3 linked regions of the Homo sapiens genome follow. The protein of the gene in region 3 interacts with the protein of the main gene of each other region in a biochemical or structural test. Each region holds a gene or a part of one and is shown on either strand. Other genes may lie near its edges.

The links.
Region 1: the proteins of NFKBIE (region 3) and HDAC5 form a complex in vitro, tested with the Homo sapiens proteins (one study listed by BioGRID).
Region 2: the proteins of NFKBIE (region 3) and NFKB2 form a complex in vitro, tested with the Homo sapiens proteins (one study listed by BioGRID).

The regions. Positions count from the first base shown.
Region 1 is NC_000017.11:44,085,588-44,092,699, forward strand, and holds part of HDAC5 (histone deacetylase 5), read right to left. Parts: coding exon 7,089-7,112; intron 6,941-7,088; coding exon 6,794-6,940; intron 6,698-6,793; coding exon 6,585-6,697; intron 6,245-6,584; coding exon 6,113-6,244; intron 5,906-6,112; coding exon 5,683-5,905; intron 3,012-5,682; coding exon 2,800-3,011; intron 2,110-2,799; coding exon 1,825-2,109; intron 1,151-1,824; coding exon 985-1,150; intron 1-984. UniProt on the Homo sapiens protein: Responsible for the deacetylation of lysine residues on the N-terminal part of the core histones (H2A, H2B, H3 and H4).
Region 2 is NC_000010.11:102,398,654-102,403,085, reverse strand, and holds the end of NFKB2 (nuclear factor NF-kappa-B p100 subunit), read right to left. Parts: intron 4,348-4,432; coding exon 4,222-4,347; intron 3,799-4,221; coding exon 3,589-3,798; intron 3,510-3,588; coding exon 3,368-3,509; intron 3,007-3,367; coding exon 2,892-3,006; intron 2,809-2,891; coding exon 2,595-2,808; intron 2,432-2,594; coding exon 2,262-2,431; intron 2,140-2,261; coding exon 2,037-2,139; intron 1,907-2,036; coding exon 1,755-1,906; intron 1,638-1,754; coding exon 1,568-1,637; intron 1,342-1,567; coding exon 1,169-1,341; intron 1,039-1,168; coding exon 927-1,038; intron 835-926; coding exon 710-834; 3' UTR 562-709; downstream 1-561. UniProt on the Homo sapiens protein: NF-kappa-B is a pleiotropic transcription factor present in almost all cell types and is the endpoint of a series of signal transduction events that are initiated by a vast array of stimuli related to many biological processes such as inflammation, immunity, differentiation, cell growth, tumorigenesis and apoptosis.
Region 3 is NC_000006.12:44,262,547-44,269,957, reverse strand, and holds the start of NFKBIE (NF-kappa-B inhibitor epsilon), read left to right. Parts: upstream 1-4,406; 5' UTR 4,407-4,611; coding exon 4,612-4,976; intron 4,977-7,295; coding exon 7,296-7,398; intron 7,399-7,411. UniProt on the Homo sapiens protein: Sequesters NF-kappa-B transcription factor complexes in the cytoplasm, thereby inhibiting their activity. Sequestered complexes include NFKB1-RELA (p50-p65) and NFKB1-REL (p50-c-Rel) complexes.

The sequences.
Region 1 (7,112 bases), on a different chromosome or scaffold from region 3:
GCCTCCTGGGCTCAAGCAATTCTCCTGCCTCAGCCTCCCGAGTAGCTGGGATTACAGGCATGTGCCACCACGCCTGGCTAATTTTTGTATTTTTAGTAGAGACGGGGTTTTACCATGTTGGCCAGGCTGGTCTCGAACTCCTGACCTCAGGTAATCCACCCACCTCAGCCTCCTAAAGTGCTGGGATTACAGGCGTGAGCCACTGCACCCAACCTATTTTTTTATTTTTTATTTTAAAGAGACGGGGTCTCACTATGTTGCTCACGTTGGTCTCAAACTCCTGGGCTCAAGTGATCCTCCCACCTTGGCCTCCCAAAATGCTGGGATTACAGGTGTGAGCCACTGCACCTGGCCTTTCCTCTCCAGCCTTTGCCCCCTCTTGACTCCTCCTGAAATTCCTTTGCTCCATTATTGCCTATCAGAAGCTTCCCTGCTCCTCAAGCCCCAGCAAGGCTGCCCTGGACACTCGCATGAGTCTCATCTCTGCCAGCTGTGCCTCCTCAGCTGCACCCTTCTCACGGCACCTCCTGCTTTCCCCCTCCTGCCAAACCCGTGTCTTACTCTCCACGGGTGATACAGGGCCACCCTCAGGCACGTCTGTGTCCCCCCAGAGCCCAGCCTGTGGCAGCTTCATAGGGAAGAGGACTCTGGTCTCATCCCAGACCTCACAGGGAGAAGGAAGGGAAGGTAGAAGGTCAGGGCCCAACAGGGACAGCAGGCTCTCTCTACCCAGCACTTCAGGCTGTGGGGCAGTCCTTCCTTCAGCGGGGTGAGAAAGACGCTACCCACTCTCCCGGCTGAGGCAGAAGGCCCTGCCGCTACCATGAACAGCTCTGGGGTACAGGGAGAGAACGAAGGCCTGTGTCCCCTCCTTTCAGGGTGCCTAAGGGGCCCCAGCAGCCTCTTCCCCCTGCCATGGGGCAGACACCACACACAGGCCCTCTGGTGCCTGGCAGAAGGACCTAACAGTTGGTGGGGGCTCACCTGTGGTGAAGAGGTGCTTGACGGGCTGGTCTGGGGGGCTCTTCATGCCCCCAGGGGCAGCAGGGGAGGACTGGGTACGGCCCAGGGCCTGGTGGGGCACAGTGGCCAGGCTGAGGGGCGCCTGGTACACCTGCAAAGGCTGCAGCGGCTGGGCATCTGAGAACAGCTGGAGGGGAGAATGGGAGGGGGCCTGGGTCAGACTCAGCCAGGACAGGGGTGAGGGCAGGCCCTGTCAGGGCCTCCAGTGGGGCCCCAATCCAGCCCTTTTCTTCCAAGTCTCCTTCCCCCACCTCCTCCCACTTGCTCCCTCCAGGGACAGGAGACACATCTCCTCTGAGATGGGGAGGGATGGGGGAGATGTGATGAGTCACATCAAAGAGTAGCATTGAGGTAAGAGGCTGGGAGGGGTGGGGGCGGGGGCGGGGTGGGGGCGGGATGAGTCAGGCCCGGAGGGCTCGGCTGTGTCCGCAATGAATGGAGTGCCAGCTAGGCGCGAGGCAGACAGTAGTAACAGCGGGGGCGTGTGTGTACACACACGCACAGGCACGCACAGGGACCGACGCATGCATACACAGACACACAAGCAGAGAGGCAGGCCAGTATCACAGACACAGGGAGGGAACTGGCAGCCTAGGACAGACACAACTCTGAGATCAACACAAACAGCTCCCCCTTCTCCCCACCGGCCTCCTTCCCACTCCCCTTTTGCTCTCTACAGAAAGCTGCTCCTGCACAGCCTGGAAACTGCAGATGGGGGAGAGGGAAAGACAAGGGCAGAGGCAGGGGTGGAGAAGGACAGAGGGGTGGTGACCAAGGACTGGGACCAGGGACGGGGCTCACTTTTTTGTATCCAGCACCAGGCTCCTCCAAGTCGGGCCCCTCCTCAGCACCACTCTCGCCCTCCTCGTCCTTAACCTGGATGCAATCCTCCTCCTCCTCCCCATCGTCTTCCTCGTCCTCCTCCTCCAGGTCTTCCTGTGTGCTCTCACTCTCTGTGGAGCCCTCCCGGGGCATGGTCAGGGCTCCCTCCCCCAGCAAGACCTCCTGCTGCTCCGTCAGCTCCTCCTCTGTCTCCTCAGGGTGGGTGGTGGGCTGCCTGGGCAGCTCCCCTGTCTTGGTGAGGATCTGATAACAGAATATGGGGGCACATCAGCTGGGAGTTGGGGAGCAGCTGTGCAGCCTAAAACCCAGAACAGTCTATCCTTCCCTCCCTCCCTTCTTCCAGGTAGAGCTTCTATGTGAATTAGAAAAAGGTGAGGTAGCTCCTCTGAGAGGACTTTTTTTTTTTTTGAGACAGAGTCTCCCTCTGTCGCCCAGCCTGGCATGCAGTGGCACGATCTCGGCTCACTGCAACCTCCGCCTTCCAAATTCAAGCGATTCTCCTGCCTCAGCCTCCCCAGTGACTGGGGTTACAGGCGCACGCCACCACGCCCAGCTAATTTTTGTTTGTTTTTTTGAGACGGTCTCGCTCTTCTCACCCAGGCTGCAGTGCAATGGTGCGATCTGGGCTCAGTGCAACCTCCATCTCCCAGGTTCAAGCAATTCTCCTGCCTCAGCCTCCCGAGTAGCTGGGATTATTATAGGTGCCTACCACCACGCCTGGCTAATTTTTGTATTTTTAGTAGAGACGGGGGTTTCACCATGTTGGCCAGGCTGGTCTCGAACTCCTGACCTCAGGCGATCTGCCCACCTCGGCCTCCCAATCAGGCGCGAGCCACCGTGTCTGGCCTGAAAGGAGGACTTTTCTGCCAGCCTGGTACTCTCCTGTGTCCTGCCCCCACCACAGCCCCAGGCCATTCACCTTTCCAGGCTCACCTTGCCCAGCTGTAGCTGCTGCTGCTTCTGCTTCTCCAGGAACTGCTGGTGCTGTTGTTGCATGACCAGCTGCTGCAGGGCCTGGGGACTCTGCGGCAGCGGTGAGGACTGAGTGCGGCTCAGGGGCCGATGCCGCGGGAGCTTGCCTACCGTCCGCATGCTGGTGGCCACACGTTCACCCGTCACTAGTGGGGACTGCCCGTGGAGTGGCACTACGGAGTTGGGGGTGATGACTAAGCACCATTGTCAGGGCACCTGACTGCCCTCCCACCGACCCTGCATCTTGCCCCCACAACCCCCTCTGGCATATCACCACCTATATACTCAGGAAAAACCCTGGGGGACCTGAAGCACCCCCCACCCAAACCTGAGCTCCATTCTTCCTCTTCCCCATGAATGAAGAGTTTCACAGCTCTAAGGTACCACCTCCAGCAAGCCTTCCTGGATTCACCATCTTTTCCCTTCGATTTCCTTAACTGAATAAACTGAGTATACATTTAGTCTTGAGCCCTCTGAACGAACAATGACTTTTCTCCCTAAGTGCAACAAGGCCTCCCTGATCATGGATCCTCCCCGTGGATCCCGCCAGGCTAGGAAGCCCTAGGGCCAGGATCATGTATCTTTCAAGCAGAACCTCTTCTGGTGCCAGGGCTCTTTAGACAGCCCTGGTACTTAAGGGCTGTCTAAAGTTGTGCTGTCTAGTCCCATAGCTACTAGTTACATGTGACTGCTGAGCCCTTGCACACAACCTGTCTAAACTGAAATGTGATATAAGTGTGAAGTATACACTAGATTTCAAAGAGTATGAAACAAAAACCAAAATATCTCATTGGTAACTGCATATTGGCCAGGCACAGTGGCTCACACCTGTAATCCCAGCACTTTGGGAGTCCAAGGCAGGGGGATGGCTTGAGCCCAGGAGTTCAAGACCAACCTGGGCAGCTGGGTGCGGTGGCTCACACCCGTAATCCCAGCGCTTTGGGAGGCCAAGGCAGGTGGATCACTTGAGGTCAGGAGTTCAAGACCAACTTGGCCAACATGGTGAAACCCCGTCTCTACTAAAAATACAAAAATTAGGCCAGGCGCAGTGGCTCACGCCTGTAATTCCAACACTTTGGGAGGCCAAGGCGGGTGGACCATCTGAGGTCAGGAGTTCAAGACCAGCCTGGCCAACGTGGTGAAACTTCTTCTCTAATAAAAATACAAAAAATTAAGCCAGGCATGGTGGCACATGCCTGTAATCCCAGCTACTTGGGAGGCTTAGGCAGGAGAATCACTTGAACTCGAGAGGCAGAGGTTGCAGTGAGCCGAGATCTTGCCACTGCACTCCAGCCTGGGCAACAAGAGTGAAACTTCGTCTCAAAAAAAAAAAAAAAAAAAAAAAAAAATTAGCTGGGTGTGGTGGCACACGCCTGTAGTCTTAACTACTCAGGAGGCTGAAGCAAAAGAACCGCTTGAAGCTTGAACCCAGGAGGTGGAGGGTGCAGTGAGCAGAGATCCTGCTTACTGCACTCCAGCCTGGGCAACAAAGTGAGATTCTGTCTCAAAAAAAAAAAAAAAAAAAGGATGAGCATGGCGGCTCACACCTGTAATCCCAGCACTTTGGGAGGCCGAGGCGAACGGATCACCTGAGGTCAGGAGTTCAAGACCAGCCTGGCCAAGATGGTGAAACCCCAGCTCTATTAAAAATACAAAAATTAGCCAGGCGCGGTGGCAGGCGCCTATAATCCCAACTACTTGGGAGGCTGAGGCAGGAGAATTGCTTGAACCCGGGAGGCAGAGGTTGCAGTGAGCCAAGATCACGCCACTGCACTCTAGCTTGGGCAACAGAGCGAGACTCAGTCTCGAAAAAAAGACCAGCCTGGGTAACATAGCAAGATCCTGTCTCTACAAAAATTAAAAAATAGAAAGAATAACTGCATATGTATTACCGAAATTGTAATATTCTGGATATAATGAGTTAAATATATGTGGTGAAATTAATTCCACTTGCTTCTCTTTTTTTTGAGACAGAGTGTCGCTCTGTTGCCCAGGCTTGGGTGCAATGGAGCGATCTCGGCTCACTGCAACCTCCGCCTCCTGGGTTCAAGCAATTTTCCTGCCTCAGCCTCCCGAGTAGCTGGGATTACAGGTGCCCGCCACCACGCCCAGCTAATTTTTGTATTTTTAGTAGAGATGGGATTTCACCATGTTGGCCAGGCTGGTCTCAAGCTCCTGACCTCAAGTGATCCACCTGCCTTGGCCTCCAAAGTGCCGGGCTCACAGGCTTGAGCCACCATGTGTGGCTCCACTTGCTTCTTTTAATTTTTTTATTTTTTTGAGACGGAGTCTCACGCTCTGTGCCCCAGGCTGGAGTGCAGTGGCACGATCTCGGCTCACTGCAAGCTCCGCCTCCCAGGTTCACACTGTTCTCCTGCCTCAGCCTCCTGAGTAGCTGGGACTACAGGTGCCCACCACCACGCCCGGCTAATTTTTTGTATTTTTAGTAGAGACGGGGTTTCACCATGTTAGCCAGAATGGTCTCAATCTCCTGACCTCGTGATCCACCCGCCTCAGCCTCCCAAAGTGCTGGGATTTCAGGCGTGATCCACCGCGCCCGGCCTTCTTTTTACATTTTTTAATGTGGATGCTAGAAATTACGTATGTAGATTGTGTTATGTTTCTACTGAACAACACTGCTCTGGGATGTGAACGCCAAGATGGCAGCAGATTTTGTCAAGAACAGTGCCTGGCATCCTGTAGGTATCCCATGTTTCCAGAATGTGGAAGAAATCACTGATGCTGTTGATTCTGCTAAGGGGAACTGTGACAGGGTTGGAGAGTATCCCTGACAGTTGGTCCTGACCTTAGCCCCCTCCCTTGCACAGCTACCTGTCCACTCACCAGCAATGAGGGTGCTCTGCTGCCGGGCCTGCTCCAGCAACAGCACATGCTGCAGCAGGGAGGCATGCCCGTGGGGGCTCCCGTCGCCCTCCAGTGCCACGCCCAGCAGGCAGCCAGGAATAGAGGATGTGCTCATGAACTTGCCGGTCAGCGTGCCACCCTGCCGCAGGGACTGGAGGGCCTGCCTCTCGGCCTCCTGCTGTGTCGACAGCTTCGGGGAGGCCTGGGGGGTGAAGGGAGGGGCTTATACAGCCTCAGTCCTGCCAACTTTGGACTAGCATCCCCATCTACCCACTATCTACCCCCCAAGCTCTGGGTAGGGCCAACAGATCTCCCTTAGGGCCTTGGAAGGGGAAAACCCCAGCTGGGGGCATGCAGGACCTGTGACCTCAACACCAGAGGGAAGATGGGGTATATGCCCTGTACTTACAGTGAGGTGTGAGTTGGTGACAGTGACCGTGGCCTGCAGCCCTAGGGAGATGTTGGGCAGAGAAGGAGACGTGTAGAGGCTGAACTGGTTGGGGGAGCTGTCCAGAGGGAGGGCTCGGTGCTGAGGGAGCATCTGGGGAGCAGTCAGAAGAGACAGGCATGAGAGTGCACAAAGGGGAGGCAACAAGGGAGGGCAACCTGGGGCCAAGGCCAAGGTCTCTGAATGGTGCCCAGTTCCCTCTACCCTGAGCTCCCACTGAGGGAGACTGAGCCATCAGGGCTCTTCATAGTCCTGTGGGACAAATTCCCCTTCAATGCAATTAAGTCCAAGCAAGGATCCTCCAGCCTATTCATGTGGGCAGAGAGGTCTCTGCTGGGCACTCAGGCAGACAGACTGGAAGGAGCTGCACTCTTTCTTCCATGGGAAGGAGCAACTCTGTCCCCGCCCCACCAGCCCCCAGCCAGGCCTGTACCTCAGTGGGGATGTTGGGGACTGAGCCAGTAAAGCCATTCTCAGCGATGGTGCTGTGGGAGCTGTTGGGAGAGCTGGGGCCGGAGCCGGGTGCGCTGTTACACACGGACGACGCTATAGGAGAAGTGGCTGTCACCTGGGCCTGCTGTGAACTACCCCCGACCCCTGATTCCCAGACCCTCAGAACAGGTACATGAGAGCAGCCCTTACCCCCAGGCCCGGCACCTGTGATCTCAACAGCTCTCTTCTTAAAGGTGCTAATAACAGTCCCATCCTTGCGACGCAGGAGGGGACTGCTTCTCCGCTCAGCCACCTTCTGTTTTAGCCTTGAACGCACTTTCAAGTTGGGTTCAGAGGCTGGAGAGAAGGTAACCGAGGTTCAGATACGCGCACAGCAGCACACATCTGCAGCTGAGCCCACTGGGGTCAGGGCTGACACTGCCACAAGCCCACCTCTGCCTCCCAGGAGCCATATTCTGGGAGGCCAGGTGGGGGACTCACTCACCTGTTTTGCGGAGGGGGAAGTCGT
Region 2 (4,432 bases), on a different chromosome or scaffold from region 3:
GCGCCGGACGCGGTGTCCGGGGCAGGGCAGGGCTGGGGCCTGGGCCTCAGGAGCCTAGGCTAGGGGCACCTCCGAGAGCCCCTTTTTGTGATAATGTTTTGCACTTTTTCGTACAGGGTGGGCGGGGGCGGGAGGGGCTAGCGCCCCTGAACTTTTGATGCTTTTTTTTTGTGTGGGAGAGGCCTGATGCCGTTTCTGCTTTCTGCTGAGACCACCCCCACCCTGACACCATCAGTCCCCCTCTGTCCTGGGGCCTGGCTTGGACAGAGACCAGGATTTGGGGCTGAGCTGGTTTCCCCTCCTTCCTCCCCAAGGGCTTACTCTTTCTCTTGCTGGAGGTGGAGGAAGGGCGTCCATGCCAAGGCCCCATACCTGGGCCGGGGGCAGCACGGCCTGGCTTTCCCCCGCTTCAGTGGGCCTTGCCCTTTGTACAGCCTCCACCCCCATTAAAACTGCTCTGGACTTGCTGGCTGGGCCTCCTCCTTCTCTTCTCACCATGCCTGGCATGTGGGCAGGGTGGGTAGCTGGTTCCAGGGACAAGAGTCACATCAGGGGCTGCCATAAGTTGGGAAGGAGGGGTCCTCCCCTTCCCATGAGAATCCTTTATTTGTCCCAACTGAGGGGTGGGTGTGGGGTGTTAAATAAGATTTGAAATAGGTGGGGACGCTGTACAGGGGGTCCGGGAAGGGGGCTGGGGGCAGGCAGCAGGTCAGTGCACCTGAGGCTGGGGGTGCCCGTGGCAGAGCCCTCCTGGTGGCTCAGGGGGTGGGCCCAGCTTCTCTGCCTCCTGCTCCACTGACTGGCTCCCGTACGCACTGTCTTCCTTCACCTCTGCTGGGGGTAAATGGGGACAGGAATGGGATAGTCAAAGCCTCAGGCCTCCGGCCCTCCAGGTCCAGATCCACCTTCCAGGGAGGCCCCTTTACCTGTGCTGGGCAGCTTGTCTCGGGTTTCTGGACCCCTCAGCAGCCTCACTCCCTCCTCTAGGCCCATGTCAGACAGGGCCTCCAGTAGACCTGCCAGGTCCCCGCCAGCCAGCTGAGAAGACAGAGGAATGAGGTCTGAGTCATGGTTAGGGCATGTGCTCGGGAGCCCTGGGGCCAAGGAGGCACCTGGACTCAGATCGGGAAAGGAGGCTGGGGAGGGGGCAGGGCACAGGCCAACCCACCTCGTAGCTGCGCAGGAGGCTGCCACTGGGTGAGGTTGTCTGTCGGTACGTGTCTACCAGGCTGCGCAGCCCCAGACGCTCTGCCAGCTCTGCCCAGCTGCCCTGGGCTTCTGGCCCGTCTAGCAGCTGCTCCAGGTTCTGCAGAGCTGTATCACCAAGTGACAGTCCCGGCCCTTAGGGGGACACACATACAGACATGTCATTTACCTCCAGAGTTGGGTGGGGACATGGACACCTGAACACTGCCTTTCTCCCAAGGTAAGCGACAGACAGGACCATGAGGGGTGATGGACGGGGCTGAGGGTAGAGAAAGGGAGGCCTCCTTCAGAGGTCCTGAAGGAGAAGAGACCTCTGTGAGGAGTCAGAGGAGTCGGGCTGGGGATGCCTGATGCTTCTCACCTGCTGGGCTGGGCGGGGTCAGGGGTGGCTCCATGGTGTTCTGAGCAGCATTTAGCAGCAAGGTCTTCACCTGGGGAGACAGCCGCAGTTCTGACTACCTCCCACCTCGTCCTTAAGCCTGTGTCTTTAAGTCCAGATACTCTGGACCCCGTCACTCAGAGCACTTCTAGTCCCGGGCTGGCCTCACCTTGGTGCTGCAAGTGAGGTCAAGAGGCGTGTGGCCCCGGAAGCTGCTTCGGGTGTCCTTCTCAGGCCCTTCAGAGTCCGAGTCGCTATCAGAGGTAGGGGGTGAAGGCAGTGGGCACAGGGGCTCCTCGTTTTCAGCATGGATGTCAGCACCTGGGAGAGGGAGGCCGTCATGGGGCGGTATGGTGGGGGCCTACATTAAGGACTGCAAAGTCGGGGGACTGGGAGGCACCTCTCTCCCTTCCCCCCACCCTGTTCAAGTGCCCCTGAGGGTGAGACTGACCAGCCTTCAGAAGGAGGCGGGTGAGGGTCGGGTACCCCAGTCCAGCTGCCAGGTGCAGGGGTGTGTTTCCCGCAAAGGTGCGAGCGTTCACGTTGGCCCGGAGCTGGGGGTGCGAGCAGCGAGAGTTGACACCACAGCATGGTCCCCTTGGCCAGCCCCCCCCTTCACCATCTTTGGCCCCTCCACCACCCTTGGCCCCACTCCTTCCACAATCCTCAGTCCCACCTTGGTGACCAGATGGGTGACCAACCCCAGCTCCTCCATCTCTGTGGCTAGATGCAAGGCTGTTCGTCCCCCCTGCCGCTCTGTGGCCTCCACTTCAGCCCCACTGTCCACCAGCAGATCCAGGCACTCAGGGCTTCGGGCTCGGACTGCCAGGTGTACTGGATACAGTCCTAAGGATGCAGGATGCTCAACCTGCAGCTGTGACCCTTAAGGCAGCCCCTGGACCAGCCCTGACCATTCAATCTCGACACCTCATAGTCCATTCTGGGCACTGGCCAGATACCCTCCCTGGTCCCCGCCTGCCCCCTTAGTCAGGTGAGATGGGGAGCTCACCCTCAAAGTCAGGCATATGCAACAGCTGGGGCACAGCAGGAGCTCCACTCTGAAGCAGTGCACGCAGCAGCTCAGGAGCACCAGCGCCTGCCCGCAGCGCCAGATGCATGGCTGAGTCTCCATGCCGATCCAGCAGAGCTGGGTCTGCACCTACCCGCAGCAGAAAGCTCACCACACTCGTCTGCCCCGTGATCACCGCCAGGTGCAGGGGCGTCTGGGGATGAAAGCAGGGTGAGCCAGGCCCGAGACCCACTTGCCTTCCAACCCCTCCCACCTCCCCAGTAGGCGCCCCCGCACCTGGTGCAGGTGGTTGGTGAGGTTGACAACGCCGAGGTCCTGGGCGTGGTGGATGACATAGACTATCTGCTCAATGACACTGGTCTGCCCGTGGATGATGGCTAGGTGCAGTGGTCTGGGGGTTGGGGAGCGAGAGTCTGGCCCAGCCACTCAGAGCATCCTTCGCTTTCAAGGCCCCACCGCCCTCATAGTCTCCCTCGCTGGGGCCCATGGAACCCAGCACGTGGCCCAGGGCATCGCTGTGCCTGCACTTAACGTTTCGCAGCACCTTTTGAGGTAGGTAAGTGCTATGACTGTACCCCTTGCACGGTCGACCAAACTGAAGTTTGGAGAGACCAAGCAGCTTGAACAGAGCTTGTGAACACCGAGGCCGGACTTGAAGCCTGGCGTGTCCGAAAACTGCAGAGCCCGCCTCCGTGCCGGTCCCTTTCCTGCCCCCACCCCGCGCCTCGTCCGCCAGGCCCTCTGTTGCCTACGTGTCTCCGTTCTCGTCCTGCGCCGTCAGCAGGTGGCGCTGTCCCGCCAGCAGCGCGCGCGCGTCCGCGGTGACGCCGTAGTCGAGTAGGGCTCGGGCGCTGCGCTGCGCCAGGCCGAACAGGCGCGCGTTGTACTCTCGAGCTACGGGCCACAGAGGGCGTGGGTCAGGGCTAGGTCCTCAGCCCCGGCGCCCCGACCGCCCGTGCCCCGGAGTCCATACCTCGCTGCAGCATCTCCGGGGCCTGCGGCTCGCACTGGGGGGTCCTGGAGGGGGCGCTTGGCTCCGCGGCTTCCTCCCCGGAGTCCCTGCTGGGCACCGTGGCGGCCATCTGCGCCCCGCCCCCGCCTCCCGGGTAGCAGCCCATGGGGCCCGCGCCGGACTGGTAGGGGCTGTAGGCCAGGGAGGAGGGGAAGAAACCGAGGCTGCCACCTGTGGATACAGGCAGGGCTGTGGGAAGCGGGCACCAGCCATGACTCTCCCAGATTTTTTTTTTTTTTTTTTGAGACGGAGTTTCGCTCTTATTGCCCAGCCTGGAGTGCAGTGGTGTGATCTCAGCTTACTGCAACCTCTTGTCTCCCAGGGTTCAAGCGATTCTCCTGCCTCAGCCTCCCGAGTAGCTGGGATTACAGGCGCCTGCCACCATGCCCAGCTAATGTTTGTATTTTTAGTAGAGACGAGGTTTCACGCTGTTGGCCAAGCTGGTCTTGAACTCCTGATCTCAGGTAATCTGCCTGCCTTGGCCTCCCAAAGGGCTGGATTACAGGCGTGAGCCACCACGCCCGGCCTCCCCCAGATTTTTTTCCTCCACAGCTTCTCTTACCTTTACCCCTCCCTCCATCAGTACCCCCTCACCTCCTCCAGCTCCTCCGTAGCCCCCGGCTGCACCCCCAGAGCCTCCACCCATGTGGGAGCCACCCCCGAAGGGCTGGGAGAAGGTGGGCAAGGCCTTCCTCCGCTTCCGCTGCACCTCTTCCTTGTCTGGGGGCAGAGGAAAATGAGATTGAGCCCAGTTATTGTGTCATGCCTCAGGGGCCCTTCCCAGAAGAGCCCTCAGGGCCGGCTC
Region 3 (7,411 bases):
CGGCCTTCACTGAACCATCTTTCTTCCCTAAAAGAACAGCTCCAGAGAAGCAGTGAAGTGTGTGCAATACCCTAGGCTGGAGGGCAGGAAACCTGAGTTCTAATTCTGAATTCTGTATCTGTCATTAAGGAGTTATGTGACCTTGGGCAAGTGCCTTCCTGTCTCTGAGCCTTAATTTCTTCATCTGTGCAGTGAGGAAGTTGACTGGACAATTTCTAAGGCTCTGACTTGTAGGTGTAGGAAGCAAGCCAGGCTGAGCCACTGCAGGCAGCCTATCCTTTCAGGCCATCCACCCCACACTGCTTTTCCCTGTATCCCCTGGCACAGCAGGAAGGACCCTGACATTTATTCATTCATTCATTTCTGGATGTCTCCATTCAGTAAACAGGTGTTGGGTACCTATTGTGTGCCCAGTACAGAAATGAAACACAGTTTCCTTCCTGCAAGGAGCACAAAGTCTAATGGGGAGAAAAGAACATGAAAAACAACCATTATGAAGAATATAATAAAAGCCATGCATGATCAATCTTGTGCATACACAGTCACTGTGGAATCCTACTATGTGTCATTAGAGTCTTTGACATACAGTAACTGTTCTCCCCAATTACTCACAGGGAACCAAGGCAGAGGGAGAGTGAATGGCTTACTCAAGGTCACCTGCTAGCACTCACAGAGCTAGTCCTAGAATTCAGATCTTTCCCACTCAAAATCTATGGGGAATATTTGTGGGTAGGAAGTTAGTTTGGGGCAAAGCCTCGATGTCTGATTTTGGGGGATAGGGTACAAACACACTGATCTGCCCAGGATGTTCCTTCCCCTTGTTGGGGACAGGAGAGCCACTGCTCCCACCCCTCTAGTCCCACTCCTGGCCCTGCCTTCATTTTACTACTCTTCCCTTTCCAGGTGAGGTGAAGGTGGCTCTCTGTCCACCTATTGCTTAGAGCTATCCAGCCTGCATGGTCCTCTCCAGGTTGATGGGTCCATTCTCCCTGCCCAGAGGAAGGCGGCTGTCCAGAAGAGGCGGGGGTCTGGTTCACTCCCTTGGCAGAGGCAGAATCTCACTTGGTGGTTCATTCCAGCATCTCCTGCCCATGCTTTTTGGGAAGCTGGCCTCACAGCTAACTCCAGCCCCTCTTGTTCCAGTTTCAACCCCTTCCCCCACAGAGAGCAGAGCCCCTAACCTTGGCCTTTCCAAACCCACAGAGGATCCTTTCGTGCTCCCCATTTAGGCACCATAATCTTCCTCTTGACACCCACCCCCACTGCCTTCCTGTCTCCACTTCAAAGGGCTTTGGAGGAGGGACAGTTTAGCTCTTTTTGGCCAATGCTAGAGCTCCCAAGAGACAAAAGGCTACCCCTGCCTTCTCCATTCACACACAGTACCCTTCCCTGGAAGCTACAAGAAAGGGGGGTGAAGGAGGGGGCGGTGGAAGGAGCCAGCTGACCGGCTGGTCACCATGGAAACCAGGCCTGTTTCCTGAAGATGAGCCTAGCTGGGGTGGGTGGAGGTGGGGAGTGGGGGCACAAAGGGAACCAGAAAACAACAGAGAGAAAGACGAGGGGCCCAGCCTCAGAGAAGACTGGAGCTGAGGAGGCGAGGTCAGGTCCCTAGCCATGCTGTGGCCTAAGTCAAAGTCCCCAGGTCACCCTTTCAGATAACACTGCAATGGTCCCCCTCCCCATTCCTGGAGTGTTGGAAAGGATTCCTGTCAAGAGTGCAAGCTCTGGTAGTGGGGCCAGTGGGTGACTCAATGCTGACCTCATGTGGCCATAAAAGGGACTGCCACACACCTGTTACGGCTCAGAGCCAAACACCTGGCTGGGTTAAGTGGGTTTTTCCTAAAATTCAGCCTCTGTATGAATAAAAAGGAGGTCCTTGCACACTCCTGAGTTCTTACATCCTTGCAGAGGGCTCAGACACTCCCACCCTATGTGGTTTACCTCTTGATAAAGAAAAGAAGGTTCCACTAAAAAATATGTAAAAGTTTTGGATTAGATGAGAAGCCATCTCTGCACTTTCTATTTTAACTTGAGCAAGTCAACTCACCTCTCTGGGCCTCAGTTTCCCAACATTAAAATGGGGATGATAGTGTCAGATTTCGTGTGGATTTTTTTGTTTTTGTTTTTGTTTTTAGACTGAGTCTCACTCTGTTGCCCAGGCTGGAGTGCAGTGGTGTGATCTCAGCTCACTGCAACCTCCACCCTCAAGTGATTCTCCTGCCTCAGCCTCCCAAGTAGCTGGGATTAATTACAGGCATGTGCCACCAGGCCCAGCTACTTTTTGTATTTTTAGTAGAGATGAGGTTTCGCCATGTTGGCCAGGCCAGTCTTGAACTCCTGACCTCAAATGATCCACCCACCTCAGCCTCTCAAAGTTTATAGGCGTGATTACAGGCGTGAGCCACCGCGCTCGGCCAAATTTTGAACCCAGTTGGTCTGGGTCTGGAGTTTATTACTATACTTTTGCTGCAGCCTTTGAGGACCGGAGAGGAACATGTCAGGGGAGGAGACTGAGAACATCTGAAATCATGCTGACTCAAGGGAAGGAGATGCTTCAATTTCCCAGGCCTTTCCCCTCGTGGCTCCTCACTGGGCTTCATGCTCATTACGTCTTTCCCACTCTGGTCCTACATGGGGTTGAAGAACAGTGGGCCATCTTCTCCCCTCAGCCCTCCCCCAACTCTTCTGCCTCCAATCGCCCCCCACAGACTAGGTCCTTCTCCTCTCCCTATCTCTCTTCCCTTCCCATTCTCAGTTCAAATGGAAGCTTCCTTGCCTCTCACCCCACTGAGTAGCTGGCCCCACTGTGTGCCCCCACAACACCCTGTTCTCACTTCTGTCTTATCCCAACCACTCTGAGCTGTAATTGCCAAGGAGCTTTTTTAGGACCATGGGATTTTTTTGTTGGTCATGGGGGGTGGTTATTGGTTATTACTGTGATAGTCAGTTTTGCTTCCAGTAGAAAGAACAACGTCAGACATTACAGGAGACCTTCCATACATGTTTGTCAAGTAGGTGAATGATGGATGAATAAAATGAGGTTGCAGGGGAAGGGCTGTGGGAAAGCTGGCCTCCCCCCTGCAAAACGTTGCTGTCTACACTCATCCACCTTCCTTTCTCCAATGCTGGAGATGGAAAAGCTACATGTTCCCTTGCGGATAACCCTCTAAGGGCATTGCTGGCGTTAGGCTGATAGCACTTGGAATAGTGGGGAGGAATGAGGGAATAAATCATGGAGCATGGGCTTAGGGCTCACTTGTAGTAGGGTGCTCCCACGGCCTTCCTAGGCCCAGGGACAGTGAAAGAGGAAAGATGTTTTGGGACTAAGATTGGGGCTGTGTTGGGGACCTGAGCAGAGTGCAACCCAGCATGTCTGGGGCCTCCCCAACCTGACCCCACTTCCTTGACTGCTGGGGTTGACCAGAAACTGTAACTACCCAAGGCCAGGGTTTCACCCTTTGAGGAAGAAGAAACTCCACAACCACTTTACTTTTTAGACAACAGTTTCCCTGAGAAGACGCTCTTTCCAAAAAAACATTTTCATGCCCAATTCCATGTGATGTGGGACGTTGACACAGGAGACTGTCTTCCAGGACCCAGGAGAACTGCTCCTTTAAAGATAATGGGAGTCCCCTTTCCCTACCCGTACCCCTGGGCACTGATAGGGAAAGATGAGAAAGCAAGAGAAATTGAGATAAATGGGCAGGGGATAGGAAGCAGTGCTTCCCCATCCCATCGCCTACATGCCCTCCCCCAAAGATGCCAGCTTGTACGGACAATTAATAGATATTTCTTTTAAAACAAATGAATGATCCGGGACCGGTGGCTCACAGCCTGTAATCCCAGCACTTTGGTAGTCCGAGGCAGGCAGATCGCTTGAACCCAGGAGTTCGAGACCAGCCTGGGCAACGTAGCGAGACCCCCGTCTCTACTTGTAGTCCCAGCTACTCGAAAGGCTGAGGCAGGAGAATCGCTTGAACCCAGGAGGCGGAGGTTGCAGTGAGCAGAGATCAACCACTGCACTCCAGCCTGGGCAACAGAGCAAGACTTCGTCTCAAAAAAATAAAAAATAAAAATAAAACAAATGAATTAAGAAATAGAAGTGAAAGAAGGAAACAGTACATGCGTGGAACTAATGAATGGAGTGAAGGAGGAAGGGGGAAAGAGTGAATGAATGAATGAATGAATGAGTGAATGAATCAACGAAGGAGTGAGTCAAGGCCCGGGAACCACAGACTCCAAGCCTACGCAGAGCCCGGGAAGGGGGATTCCGGAGGGGCGGGGCCTCTTTCCGGAAGCGCCCGCCGGGGGCGGGGAGGGGGCGGGGCCATCCGCGTGAGGCGACCCTGTTGGTCCGGAGGGGCGGGGCGAGGAGGAGGACCCGCTTGGGCGGTTCGGCTGCCCACAGTAACCGCTGGGTGGACCTGGCCAGCGCTCCGAACCTTGTCCTCGCTGCGCGCCGGCCCCTCGGAGCCCCACAGCCCGGGAAGGAGGCCGCCGCGGGCCGGGCGCCCGCTCTGCCAAGCGGACCCGCAACCCGGAAAGGCGGCGCGGCGGAGCCTGGAGCCGGATCCTGCTCAGACCGGGCCCCGGCCGGCCAGAGCCGCGGGCATGTCGGAGGCGCGGAAGGGGCCGGACGAGGCGGAGGAGAGCCAGTACGACTCTGGCATTGAGTCTCTGCGCTCTCTGCGCTCCCTACCCGAGTCCACCTCGGCTCCAGCCTCCGGGCCCTCGGACGGCAGCCCCCAGCCCTGCACCCATCCTCCGGGACCCGTCAAGGAACCACAGGAGAAGGAAGACGCGGATGGGGAGCGGGCTGATTCCACCTATGGCTCCTCCTCGCTCACCTACACCCTGTCCTTGCTGGGGGGCCCCGAGGCTGAGGACCCGGCCCCACGCCTGCCACTCCCCCACGTGGGGGCGCTGAGCCCTCAGCAGCTGGAAGCACTCACTTACATCTCCGAGGACGGAGACACGTGAGTATGGGGGCTAGGCTGAATCGGGATGCTAACTCTGGGCCTGCCCAAGAGCCGCAACAGGTCGGGCACCCCCACTCCCCCGTGAAGATCCTTCAAGTCCCCATTCGCTCTTCCAAACTCCAGACTTAACTCTCAGCCCACTTTTGAGGTCCAGCTAGGCCATGGAATCATCTCTGTCCTCCCATTTCGGGGTGGGCAGAGCTGGCAGGACCCTTAACCCAGCCAGCATCTTGGAAATCTACCAATAATCCACCCTTAGGAAGAGAAAATTCCCCTGACCAAGTCCAGTTTTTTTGTTTCTTCTTGCTGGGGAAGGGGACATCCTTATTTGCTCAATATCTGGGATTCCCAGTTCCTGACCTCAGAATGCTCTGTCTCAAGGAACAACAGGTGCCAGTTACAGGTTGCCAGTCGGGGCCAGGAAGCTAGGCATGGGGGGTGCCACCAGGGTGTAGGTTTGGGACTGGTCCTCAGGAGGATGGGGTGAGCCAGGCTGGGGCACTCTTGCCCCAGCAGACAGACAGGCGGCTGGCTGCCCCAGCTTACTTCCTCCTCTGCTAAGAAAGGGGAAGTGAGGGCTAGAGTCAGCGTCCCTGACATCCTCTACCTCCAGAGCCCCCAGTCCCACTAACTGTCGTGTCTCACTCCCTCACTTAACCCTTCCTCCTCCAGACCCAGATGGAGTTTGGTGGGAGTGGGCCAGAGGGCAGTTGAAGTAAAAGGCAGTTGTGTGGGATGGGTTGGCCAGTTGAGGATTTAGCCCCCCAGGAAGAAGAAAACATTGACAGAGGAGGGAAAGGTTGGGAACTGGGGATGAGAAATAGAGTTGGGGAGGGCTGGAATCCCTGGTCAAGGGTGCTCATATAAATAGGAGTAGGGGAGGCAGGAGGTGGCTGTCCTAACCTGCTTTTTGGAGATGCAGGGTCCTAATCCTGGGTGGCCATTGATAAAGACAGCTGGTGGACCCAGTGGGTGGGAGAGGAGTGACCCAGTCCTTTCTGTACTCTGCCTGGATCACCAGCCCTCAGGCCCAGAACCCCAAGGTTTTGGGGGCTGCACGCAAGATACCTCTGATGACCTTTGATCCAAGGAGAGGGGACTTTTGACATTGCCGTCTTTTGTTAGCCTCTCAGCCCCAGCCTTTTCCATCTCTAGTTAGAAGCAGGTGTTGTGTCCAGATTGGGTGTGTGTGTGGAGGGGAGAAATGTCCGGGCTCCCCAGCGAGTCCCCAGAGAGCAGGGGGCACTTTCCTCCCTCTGTTGGAGGTGTCTGGGCTGTGGGAGGTATGGAAGTGGGAAGAGGAAGTGGGAGGAGGGGATACTGGGGGAGAGAGGGAGGTGGCTGCAAGAATGTGACCCAGAGAGCAGGCCCTGGCCTAGGGGATTTCCAGAGCAGTTCCTCCCTCCCTCCGTCACTCTCCTGGGCCTCTCCTGCTGCCTGCTGCTAAAGCCTGCCACCCTCCTGCCCAAGCAGCCCCCTCCCCAGCCCAGACGGGCCTTTTAGCCAATCTACCCCCCTCACTAATGCCCCAAGGCAGCTGTCCCGGCCTAGACCCTCCATCACTGGCTTTCGTTTTCCCCACCTGACGTGGGGAAACCCCAAGACTGGAACTTCCCCTCCCAACTGCCCCCATTACCCCTAGATTAAGGTTCTTGGCCCCCTCAACAAATACATTTTCTGCACTACAAAGACCTCCTCTTGGAGGTGCACACAGGAATGGAGGGCCTCTGTTAGGCCCGACCTGGTCTGTGCTATCTGAGAGGTGCCTCTTGACTCCCAGGGAAGGGCAGCAGGACAGGATGCTGCACTGTCTCCTTGCTCCTCTTCCAAGAGTTTCTGTGTCTCTCCCTTGGAATGTGTAACACTGAGTTGCTTGGGGGTACGGGGTGACCCTGCAACTGTCTCCTTCTTTCCTGTGTGCTGGGGTGGTGGGGTGCTTAGCCCTGGAAACCCCCTCTGGACTACTTCGGCAGCTTTCAATTTGGCTTTGAGCTGCAGCTGGCTCGGCAGAGCCCTGAGGGCAAAGAGGAGTGGGTGTGGGCAGGCTGGACAGGAAGGCTGTTGTCCTGTCAGCACCCTGCCCACATGCCCACCCAGCCAAGGCCCTCCTGAAGGCCAGCAGTGGGAACTTGGAGCTCCAACCCTAGGATCCTGGCTTCCCACACCAACCCTCACTTCCTGGCCCACACTCTCACTTCCTGGACCTACCCTATGGGTAGCTAGTTAAAGTTTGATGTGTTCCTTCTAACTCCAAGACCCCAACCCACTCCCTCTGGCCTGGGCCCTTAACTCTAAGCCCCGCCTCTGCTCCCCTAGGCTGGTCCACCTGGCAGTGATTCATGAGGCCCCAGCGGTGCTGCTCTGTTGCCTGGCTTTGCTGCCCCAGGAGGTCCTGGACATTCAAAATAACCTTTACCAGGTTGGTGGCGAGA